Homo sapiens: one gene and its partners. The protein of the gene in region 2 interacts with the protein of the main gene of each other region in a pairwise test. Each region holds a gene or a part of one and is shown on either strand. Other genes may lie near its edges.

Evidence for each region.
Region 1: the proteins of CEP126 (region 2) and CRCT1 interact in a two-hybrid assay, tested with the Homo sapiens proteins (one large-scale study listed by BioGRID and IntAct).
Region 3: the proteins of CEP126 (region 2) and POLD1 interact in a two-hybrid assay, tested with the Homo sapiens proteins (one large-scale study listed by BioGRID and IntAct).

What each region holds. Positions count from the first base shown.
Region 1 is NC_000001.11:152,512,965-152,516,641, reverse strand, and holds CRCT1 (cysteine-rich C-terminal protein 1), read right to left. Parts: upstream 2,161-3,677; 5' UTR 2,090-2,160; intron 1,385-2,089; exon of another isoform or gene 1,281-1,384; 5' UTR 1,259-1,280; coding exon 959-1,258; 3' UTR 634-958; downstream 1-633.
Region 2 is NC_000011.10:101,921,423-101,925,072, reverse strand, and holds part of CEP126 (centrosomal protein of 126 kDa), read right to left. Parts: intron 2,433-3,650; coding exon 2,313-2,432; intron 1-2,312. UniProt on the Homo sapiens protein: Participates in cytokinesis. Necessary for microtubules and mitotic spindle organization. Involved in primary cilium formation.
Region 3 is NC_000019.10:50,408,289-50,411,938, forward strand, and holds part of POLD1 (DNA polymerase delta catalytic subunit), read left to right. Parts: intron 1-418; coding exon of another isoform or gene 419-496; coding exon 497-613; intron 614-833; coding exon 834-947; intron 948-1,230; coding exon 1,231-1,378; intron 1,379-1,652; exon of another isoform or gene 1,653-1,736; intron 1,737-3,650. UniProt on the Homo sapiens protein: As the catalytic component of the trimeric (Pol-delta3 complex) and tetrameric DNA polymerase delta complexes (Pol-delta4 complex), plays a crucial role in high fidelity genome replication, including in lagging strand synthesis, and repair.

The DNA of each region.
Region 1 (3,677 bases), on a different chromosome or scaffold from region 2:
ACCTGGAGAGGGCAGCTCCCAGTTTCCTGGAAGGCTCATCTTAGGAAAAATTTCCTCCCCAGCAAGCAAAGCAGTAGGTCAATGAACTTCCATGCCAAAAATAAAAAATAAAATAAGACATAAAACTAAAAAAAAAAAAAAAGAAGACAGCTGGCTTGATTCCAAAGCCCCAAAGAGTTGCCAAAACAAACTTTTACCACACAGCTGCCTGGACCTGGTGGTCGGGAGGAGCACCTCAGTGGTAAGGCTTGGGAAGCCCAGGTGAGAACTCAGCAGAGCAATGAAGCCCTTGAATCAGATGTCCTGTCTTCTTTATCATGCGCCAGCTGGGTGACTTTGAACAAATTACTTAACCTCAGTTTCTCTTCTGTAAAATGGGTATAATTGCACTCTCCTACGCAAGTCATTATGAGAATCAGATTGTGCCACATAAAGTCCTGAGAATATTCAAGGACTTTGTCGCATAAAATCCTTAAAATACTCGAAACAGTCGATATGTGATCGCTGCTATCATAATTAACTATCAGAAAGCCACCTTCTTGTTCAGGCATGAATTATAGTATTCTGCCTTTCACAAACATTTCAAGCCTTTCTACCTGGGTGGAGAAACGAATGAAGAACAAATAAAAGGTGTTCTCAGGAGGTAGAAGCTTTATTATGACATCTTCAAAAGACAATCAAATCAATAGACATTTGCTGAGCACCTGCTGTGTGCAAGCCCGTGTAGACAGTAGGGTCCAGTGTCCCACGCATGGCTCTCGAATCCCCGGGGAGAAAAATCACATCGGGGTCAGGGAGTTTTGCGTGGCTGAGAACAAAGTGGGTTTCTGAACATCAAAGTGCAATTCGCTTTACGGGGCAAACTCCGAGGCCCAGCCCCGCGTGGGAGCCGCAGCGGGGCGGGCCCGCTCTGGGCTGGGCGGGTTTCTCTAGCGCAGCGCTGGGGGTTGCGGGCCTCTCAGCAGCCGGAGCAGCATCCTGAGCTCCGGTTGTTGGAGCGCTGGGACCTCTGGCTGCCGCCCCCGCAGCAGCAGCAACCACTACTCCGCTGTCGGCGGCGTCTCCTTGGGAAGCAGCAGCAACTGGTGGAGCTGGAGCCGCAGCAGCCTGAGTCGCCGCAGCAGCCCCTGCCGGAGCCGCAGCAGGAGGAGGAGGAGGCGGGCGCCGGGGTGGGCGCCGGGGCGGGACACGGAGCGGGGCCCTGGGACGACCCCTTGGAAAAGCCTTTGGCGGAAACGGCGCTCTGTTGAGAGGACATCGCGGAGCTCCTCACGACAAACCTGGAAGAAAGGCAGCCTTTCAAAGGCGAGCCGGCTTTTTCTTTCCACCAATGGAACTCTGTCTGGGCTTTTGAGATTCGGCTTAGTGTACAAGTCAGCCTGGCCTGGGACAAGGAGGGAAAAGCACCCAGAAAGAGCGGACGCAAAGAAGCAAATCCAAGCAGGTGTTTCCAGTGAGTTAAACATGCTCAGAGCAGGACACAATCCATGCAATGAATCAATGCATTTCCATTTTCTCTGACTAGAAGAAGACTGCTCAAGTTCTCCACAGTGGAAAATAAACAGCACACTGCGGCAACTTATCTGTATGATCCAGTCCAAAATCTCCACTTGGCTTTTTTCTTGTCCCTCATTTTACTTTCCTACCGACCTTCGACTGTATCTTCCTAGTTACTACACCCCCATCAGTTAGAAAACACCCAAGTCCAACAGGCGGTCCCACCTGCTGGGTCTAAATAATCCACAGGCCAGAAGCATGTCCTGATCATTCTTTCTTGCCTACGCCTCTCATGCCCCACAACCATGTGGGAAAGGAGAGTTGTGCCAATATAAATAACCCCATCCAGGGAGCTGAAAGACCTGGGTTCTAGTCACAGCTCTTCTGCGGACTTGCTGTGTACCCTTGCAAAAACCACCTCCTATGTTGCCTTTATGTCCTCATTAGTACCTTAAGAGGTTGGCTCACTAGAAGCGTAGGTGCCTTGCGGGACACCCCTTCCACATCTATCTGCTGCCTGTGTTCTGTTTGCTCCTCCCCTGTGCCCTCAACTCATCCCACCCTCTCCCCCAGACCCTGCTAGGAGACTTACCAGACCCTGGCTCCACTGAAAGACTCACTACGTTCTCCAACTGGAATGGGCCACCTGCTAGGCAGTGGATTGAGCAGCGTCCAGCCAGAGAACCTTTTTATAAGAAGTATTCAGGTTCAGGCTCTTGGGAGGGGCCCATTTCCCAACAGACGTGCTCAGCTGACACTCACATCCCAGAGACATTCATCACTCAGGTAGCATTGTAGGTGGTGCATGTGGGCATCTAAGTCACTTCACAGAGGTGCCAGGATTGCTATGGCATGTTTACTTTCCAAACAGGGCACTGTTTGTACCTGGGAGGCTGTGTGTATGCTAAGAGAGGGCATGGGGCTCAAATGCAGGGAGGTCTGGAACCCCTGCCCTTGTCTTCAATACACACACACACACACACACACACACACACACACACACACACAGACGGCTCCACTTGCCCACACATCCATTCCTATGTAGTCATCTACTTGGTAGGTGGTAGTTCACCTATTTTTATCTTGATTCTCATCTCTCTGGCTCTTGGTCCTTGGCTCCCCAGGGCAGACCACAAGCTATGCGATAAGCCTGCTGGGTTTCATCCATATGCTTCAAGATGCAGTGAGTGAAGATGATGACGGGGATGCACCTTTGGGAACCCCAGGGGTGATTTCTCTCTGTCACTGGAGACAGGAAGAAAAACCTAGGCAAAGTTAAGGAACCATAAGACCAGAAAAGTTGTGAATGTAGTCAGGTTGCCATATCCCCATAATACAGCATGGTATGACAAAGAGAAAAATGTGTGCAGGACAGTGGCCCAATTGCAAAAAGGCTAGTCAGCCTGTGGGACTCCTGCTTCTTATCCCACCCCCAACCACCAATCTGCCTTTGAAGATAAGTTCTCCCTAGGGCCACTGCCCAGTGCAAAAGAAAATGGGAAAGGAAGAAGGGAGGGAGGGAAAGAAGAAAAAAAAGAGAAAGAAAGAAAGAAAGTTCTTTCCAAAGGTCCAAAGTGTTCATGATAGATAGTGTTTTCAGAATAACTAATTTTTAAGAATTGGAGGATACTTTGGCAGTCAACTTCAGAACTGCTTCTTAATCAAATTGCCCACAACTGTGAATGTGAACTATAACAGAAGTCCAAGACTAAGAATTCAGGAATTAAGGATGAGAGACAGGTTTGGGGGCGAGTGAGCTGGGAGTGGCTCAAGGGACTAGGCGAGGAAAGATAAGTCACAAAAGATACCAGTTTCATTTAACATGGATTTAGAGCCTGATTAACAGGTTGCCAGTTCCTAGAGCACCTGTTGGTGAGTATAGGTGAGACATTCCAAAAAGTAAAGTCAATATTAGAACAGAGAAGGAAGTAATGAAATAACAAGACAGAGGCAGGATCTCCTCTGGGAAAATGGGCAAAGTTCTTTTAAAAAAAAAAAAAAAGAATGAAGAACGTTTGGTAGGAATCAGTATAAGGAGATAATCTGGGCAAGTGCCTACTCATTCTGTGGGCATCCTATGATCTCATAAACCAGCTTACTTTATTTATCGCTATTAACTCTTATCAAAGGAGGCATCAATTGTTTATCTTTTATATTAAAGGCTGATTTGGAATTAACTT
Region 2 (3,650 bases):
GAGCCGGAAACAAAGGGGACTTGGAGGGAAACAAAGGGGACTCCATTGTATAGATACTGACTGAGAGAATGGAAAACTTGAGGATGTGATAAAAGCATACAATGCAAGAAAAATATTGGCTAATAGAAATGCAATAAATAATAAGAAAATAAAAATGTGTGTGATTTAAAGCAACTAATGAAAATAAAGAGAACTTGATGCTAGGAACATTTTCCTTTGACTTCTGCTGGACACATAACACTGACAATGTCAATGTATAACTGACAAATGGCAGGAGACTGTCTCTACCTGAAGAAAATACTATTTAAAAAAAAAACCCAAAACCACCTATAATCCCAGCACTTTGGGAGGCTGAGATGGGAGGATCACTTGAGGTCAGGAGTTCAAGACCAGCCTGGCCAACATGGCGAAACCTTGTCTCTATGAAAAACACAAAAAAATTAGCCGGGCACGGGGGTGCGTGCCTGTAATCCCAGCTATTCGGGGGGTTGAGGCAGGGGAATCGTTTGAATCTGGGAGGCGGAGGTTGCAGTGAGCTGAGATTGTGCCCCTGTACTCCAGCCTGAGTGACAGAGTGAGACTCCATCTCAAAAAAACAAAACAAAACAAAAAACCACACACACACACACACACAGCCCCAAAACAACAACAAAACAAAAAAATCCTCTGTGACCACAATGTAAGTGGACAGCATAAACTTAAATGATGTAAAGTATAAATTGATAGACAATGGCATGGTTAAGAAGACCATAATCATAGACAGCTTCTGAAATTCGGATGTGCACAAATAATTCAGCCCCCTTATAAAAGGTGAAATACAGAGACAAATGATTAGTGTTTTAAAAGAAATGTTTATGTATCTTTACATTGCACTTTAGGGTAACGGAAAATAAAACACAATAATATTGTATTGGAAAATGTCCTGCCTCTTAGAATTTTAAACCAAGATTTCTTTTCTGTTATTTTCTACATAAGAATTCTTACATTTGATGAGAGAATACAAATAGAAAATTTATTAATAAAATTCCATAAAGGCTTGCTATTAAAGTTGATTATTGTAAAATAAACAACTGATAAACATTAATAATAAAAAATAAGAAGTCCTATGTGTCAGACACTGATATTTTTACATGTATTCTCAAATATTCCACTTTATTTCTACCCTTTCTGCTCTACACCAAAATCCCTTGAAATAGATGTAATTAATTCCAATCATAAATGAGAAAACTGAGGCTTAAAGACATTAAACAGACATCCTTTAATTCATAGAGCTAGTATTTCCTAGATCTCTGACTCCAAAGTCCATTACTCTTTCAACATATGATTATTCATCTTTACTGAACACCTGTCACACGCCGTTTATAGATGCCAGGAGCCCAAAGGTAGGAGAAAAGCAGAAACCTATGCATACAAAATAAAATTCTAAATTTCAGTAAATAATTTCAACTACATCAGACAATAAAAAAGTTAATCTGAAGAGAAACATAATGCCAGGCAAAAATTACAGGTAAACAATTTTTTATTCCCCAAATGGGATTTGTTAACATATGCCCAGTGATGTAGTTAATAAAGTCTAGGGATTTTCTGCTATTCATATATTGTAGAAATATGGACAAGGTAGCAAAAACAACAATTAAAAAATGGCATAACTGCTCTGTCTCAAAAAAAGCCTAATATTTAAAAAACATCCTGAAAAATGTTAAGCAGTGATTGAACAATTTGTACTTTTTCTTTACTATAGTTTCTAGTTTACCCTAGAAAGCTCCTTTTTCTAGCATTCACTTATAAAACATTTCTACCACTTCTACTGTTATTCATATTGCTACCATTATTCATATTTTTCCAATTTTTATACCATTATTCATATTTTTTCCAATTTTTCAGATTGAACGAATGAAAAGTGGCAGATATAGAAAAATTATATAGAAGTGAATAACAAATTAAACTCAAACTATATACCAAAAGACTAAATATTAATTGGTAATTTTAAAATCATCATGAAATCATGAAATGATACAAAAAAAGAAGATAATACATTTCATAGTCATTTTAAGAAGTGTATATGACAATGCAATAAGCTGTTCTATGACAAAAAAAGACTGCTACTGTCAGAGACCTAGATAATACACCACCACCCTTGTGCTTTGGGAAGGAAAACAATAATAAAATTTACAAAGCCACACAAATCTTGATCAATGTTTCACAGATAACACTGCCATGACTTAGTTTCATAAAGTGCTACAAAGTAGAGAAACTATTACTTTATATTGACTTTGAATTTCTATACTTCTGAATAAAGTGCAATTACTTACTTTTTTCTCCGATTTGACTCCACAAAATATTTACGTGCTCGATTTCGACATATTTTTTGTTGCTGCAGTAATATCTGGCGCTCTTCTTCTAAATTTTTCTCCAGATGGATTTTCATATCTCTAATGATAGCATTAAGTTAAGAACAATGGTCTACATCTTTAGTGGATGACTGTCAGTGCTATATGATAAATATAACTACAGCCTCATGCAAATGATGTAATGATAGTTTTTGTGGAATAATTAGTATGTGCCCACATTAGTATATGACTGGCAAACATTTTATGTAAAAAAAATTCGGGGCTGGGTGCGGTGGCTCACACCTGTAATCCATCACTTTAGGAGGCTGAGGCAGAAAGATCACGAGGTCAGTAGGTCAAGACCCGGCTGGCCAACGTGGCAAAACCCCGTCTCTACTAAAAATACAAAAATTAGCTGGACGTGGTGGTGCATGCCTGTATTCCCAGCTACTTGGGAGGCTGAGGCAGGAGAATCGCTTGAACCCGGGAGGCGGAGGTTGCAGTGAGCCAAGGTTGTGCCATTGCACTCCAGTCTGGGTGACAAGAGCAAGACTCCATCTCAAAAAAAAAAAAAAAAATTCTGACTTGGTATTAGAAAGTAAGATATAGCTCACTTTTCCTGGAGAAAAAAAATCTACTTTTAGAAATCATGAGCTCAGGCTGGGCGCGGTGGCTCACACCTGTAATCCCAACACTTTGGGAGGCTGAGGCGGGTGGATCACCTGAGGTCAGGAGTTTGAGACCAGCCTGGCCAACACGGTGAAACCTGTCTCTACTGAAAACACAAAAATTAGGCGGGCGTGGTGGCGGGTACCTGTAATCTCAACTACTCAGGAGGCTGAGGCAGGAGAATCTCTTGAACCTGGGAAGCAGAGGTTGCAGTGAGCCGAGATTGCGCCACTGCATTCCAGCCTGGGCAACAAAAGCGAAACTCCATCTCAAAAAAAAAAAAAAAAAAAAAAAAAGAAATCATGAACTTCAGATAAAGAGGACTGTATATCTTCATTCATTACACAGTTTTTTTTTTTTTTTTTTTGAGACAGAGTCTCACTCTGTTGCCCAGGCTGGAGTGCAGTGGCATGATCTTAGCTCACTGCAACCTCTGCCTCCTGGGTTCAAGTGATTCTTCTGCCTCAGCCTCCCAAGTAGCTGGGACTACAGGCATGTGCCACCACACCTAGTCAATTTTTGTATTGTCAGTAGAGACGGGGTTTCACCATGTTGGTCAGCCTGGTCTCGAACTCCTAACCTCAGGTGATCCACCTGCCTCGGCCTCCCATAGTGGTGTGATTACAGGCGTGAGCCACCGTGCTTGGCCTC
Region 3 (3,650 bases), on a different chromosome or scaffold from region 2:
TGCGCCACTGCACTCCAGCCTGGGTGACAAAGCGAGACTCCGTCTCAAAAAAAATAAAATAAAATAAAATAGTAGATTAATTATATATATTATTTTTCTTTTTCTTTTTCTTTTTTTGACACAGGGTCTCACTCTGTCACCCAGGGTGGAGTGCGGTGGCATGATCTTGGCTTACTCCACCTCCTAGGCTCAAGCAATCCTCCTGCCTCAGGCCCCTGAGTAGCTGGGACCACAGGCGTGCACCACCACACCTGGCTAATTTTTAAAATTTTTTTGTAGAGATAGGGTTTTGCCATGTTGCCCAGGCTGATCTGAAACTCCTGAGTTCAAGCGATCCTCCTGCCTCAGCCTCCCAATGTGCTGGGATTGCAGGAGCGAGCACTGCTCCCAGCCAATGAATGATTTTTTTTTTTTAAAGGGTGAGGCCACAAGACAGGGCGGGGGCGGCATGGGAACTCCTAGCCCTGACTCCCGGCCGCGGCTGCTCCCCTCCCAGGTACTACGACGTCCCCATCGCCACCCTGGACTTCTCCTCGCTGTACCCGTCCATCATGATGGCCCACAACCTGTGTTACACCACGCTCCTTCGGCCCGGGACTGCACAGAAACTGGGGTATAGTGCCCAATTCAGCATGTGTCCCCCGAGGCCCATCTGGGCCTTCCCTTGGGGGGCTCAGTCTGGTGGGGGGCATAGGCACAGGCCCAGAGATAGTAGGGAGTGGAGGGGTGCTTGAGGGGCCTGCGTGTGCTCATGGCCAAGGCCAGGACCGTAGGGCAGAGGTGGGCTGGAGCAGGAGGGTGGCCGGCAGTCACCCCAACATCTTCCAACCCAGCCTGACTGAGGATCAGTTCATCAGGACCCCCACCGGGGACGAGTTTGTGAAGACCTCAGTGCGGAAGGGGCTGCTGCCCCAGATCCTGGAGAACCTGCTCAGTGCCCGGAAGAGGTGAGCCCTGGAGATCGCCTGCTTGGAGCTCAGACCTGTTGGGGCCTCTGGGCAATCCCTGTCCCTCACTGGGACACCCCAGGGCTGCCCAGCCACCCTGCCCTCAGCTGTGCGTGAATTAGCACAAGGCATCCCCTCCTGGCAGCTTCCTTTTGCCCCCTTGGCCAGAAGCTTCTGTGCAGTGCACAGTACGCCCAACCGTACATGGCACTCACTTCCAGAAAGGAGCCCTGACCAATGCCCAGGTGCCGCCTGAGTGTGCTTTCCCCGTGTTCCCTCGCAGGGCCAAGGCCGAGCTGGCCAAGGAGACAGACCCCCTCCGGCGCCAGGTCCTGGATGGACGGCAGCTGGCGCTGAAGGTGAGCGCCAACTCCGTATACGGCTTCACTGGCGCCCAGGTGGGCAAGTTGCCGTGCCTGGAGATCTCACAGGTGGGCACTCGGGCCCCTGGAAGGCAACTGGGGGCAGGTGGGCCCCCTGTGTAGGAGACCAGGGCTCCATGTGGGGGACCTGTATCCAGAGGACTGGGCACCCCAACTCACTGGCCTTCTAGAGAGAGGATGCCAATGTGGCTTGAGCAATTGGTCCATTCCTTCACTCAGCAAATGCCTACTGAGCACACACTGTGGTCAGGGCTCACTCTGTGCCCTGGGGATACAGAGGGGAACAAAATGGATGAGAGCTCCTGTCCCTGTCATCTTGCAGCCCAGTGGGGACACTGACAGGTCTGTGTAAACGTGTTTAGGACACAAGTGGCGCTACGAGCTTTGCAGCCGGATAAAGCAGGAGGTGCGGACTGTCGGGGAGTGATGGGGCTGGGCGGGACTCACCCCTCTCAATAGGCGACGCTCACACAGAGGCCAAGGGACGTGGGGAGGGAAGCCATTCACCGTCCCCACGGCAGCGTCCCGGTCTGCCTACCCACGGCAGCTCTGCTGCTTGAACAGAAAAACAGATTCTTTGAAACCACAGAGGGCCTGAGTTTCCGAGATTGCCAAGCTGGGGTCAGTGCCCCAGCTCCTGGCATATGAGGGCCTCGGAAGGGTCTTCCTGTCCAGCCTTCTCCCCTGGGACTTGAGTCTTGGCCCATTCCAGGCCAGTAGTTGTGCTGCTCTGCTTGGTTACCTCTAGCCACGGGGAGCTCCCTCTCTGGCTGGGCACTGCGCCACTTTTCACAGGGCTCTGGGTGGAAGGCTTGGATGAATTCTCAGTGGGTGGGGCCTTTGCACACACCCACCCACCCGCAGTTCTGGGGGTCCCAAAGACCACTTAGGTTCAGTGATTCACTAGAAGTACTCAGAGAGCAGAAAAGCTGGTTCTCATGGTTATGATTTAATACAGCAAAAGGACACAGATTAAACTCAGCAAAAGAAAGAGGTGCACAGGGCAGGGTATAGGAGGGACCAGGCGTGTCTTCCAGTTGTGCTCTCCCAGTAGAGTTGCCAGGCTGGCCCTCCTTCCTCCCAGTTTTGATGCGTGCCTGCACACATGCAGCATTGCCAACCAGAGGCTCTCACCCAAGCTTTGGGGTCCAGGGTTTTTCTTGGGTGTCAGTCCTATAGGCATGGAGCACCCTGTGACTGGCCTTAGTGACTCCATCATCCCCAGGCCCCTCAGCAACCCCCAGAGGTCAAACTGATACTGCATGGCCCAGGGCCCTACCATAAACCATGTTAGTGTCAACTACCTGGTGTGGTTCAAAGTCCCAGGTACACAAACACCTTTTTTTTTTTTTTTTTTGAGACAGAGTCTCACTCTCTCACCCAGGCTGGAGCGCAGTGGCACAATCGTGGCTCACTGCAGCCTCAACCTCCGGGACTCAGGTGAGCCTCCCACGTTAGCCTCCCAAGTGGCTGGGACTGCGGGCACGTGCCACCTATTTTTGTTATTTTTTGTAGAGATAGGGTCTCGCCATGTTGCCCAGGCTGGAACAGAGACACTGTTATCAGGCGGGATATTCTAGGGGCTTAGACTACCAGGAGCCAGGCAAGAGCCAGACCTTTCTTTGCACAAAGTGAATCGCTCACTGCATGCTCCCAACTCCCCTCTGCCTTTCACAGTCCCCGGCTGCCTCCCCAGCCTCCTTGGTGGAAAGGGGTGGCTGTGTGGACATCAGGCTCTAGCCCTGAAGCAGAGGCCAGGCCAAGAGAGCACAGCTTGGCCCTCCCCTGGGGCTGCCTCTTACCAATCCTGTGTCTCTGTCTTTTCTCTCTCAGCCGCTTCCCTCTGTCACTGTTCTGTTTCTGTCTCTTGACCTCTTTCCTTATTTCTGTCTCTCAAGCTTATGGGAGCAAGAGGTGGAATAATAAAAATGCAATGAATTGGCTGGGCGCGGTGGCTCACGCCTGTAACCCCAGCACTTTAGGAGGCCGAGGCGGGCGGATCACGAGGTCAGGAGTTCAAGACCAGCCTGGCCAACATGGTGAAACCCTGTCTCTATTAAAAATACAAAACATTAGCCAGGAGTGGTGGCAGGTGCCTCTAATCCCAGCTACTCGGGAGGCTGAGGCAGGAGAATCGCTTGAACCCAGGAGGCAGAGGTTGCAGTGAGCCGAGATTGCGCCAGTGCGCTCCAGCCTGGGCAACAGAGCAAAACTCCGTCTCAAAAAAAAAAAAAAGTAATGAATTACAGTGTTCACGCCTGTAATCCCAACACTTTGTGACACTGAGGAGGGAGGATCACTTGAGGCCAGGGGTTTAAGA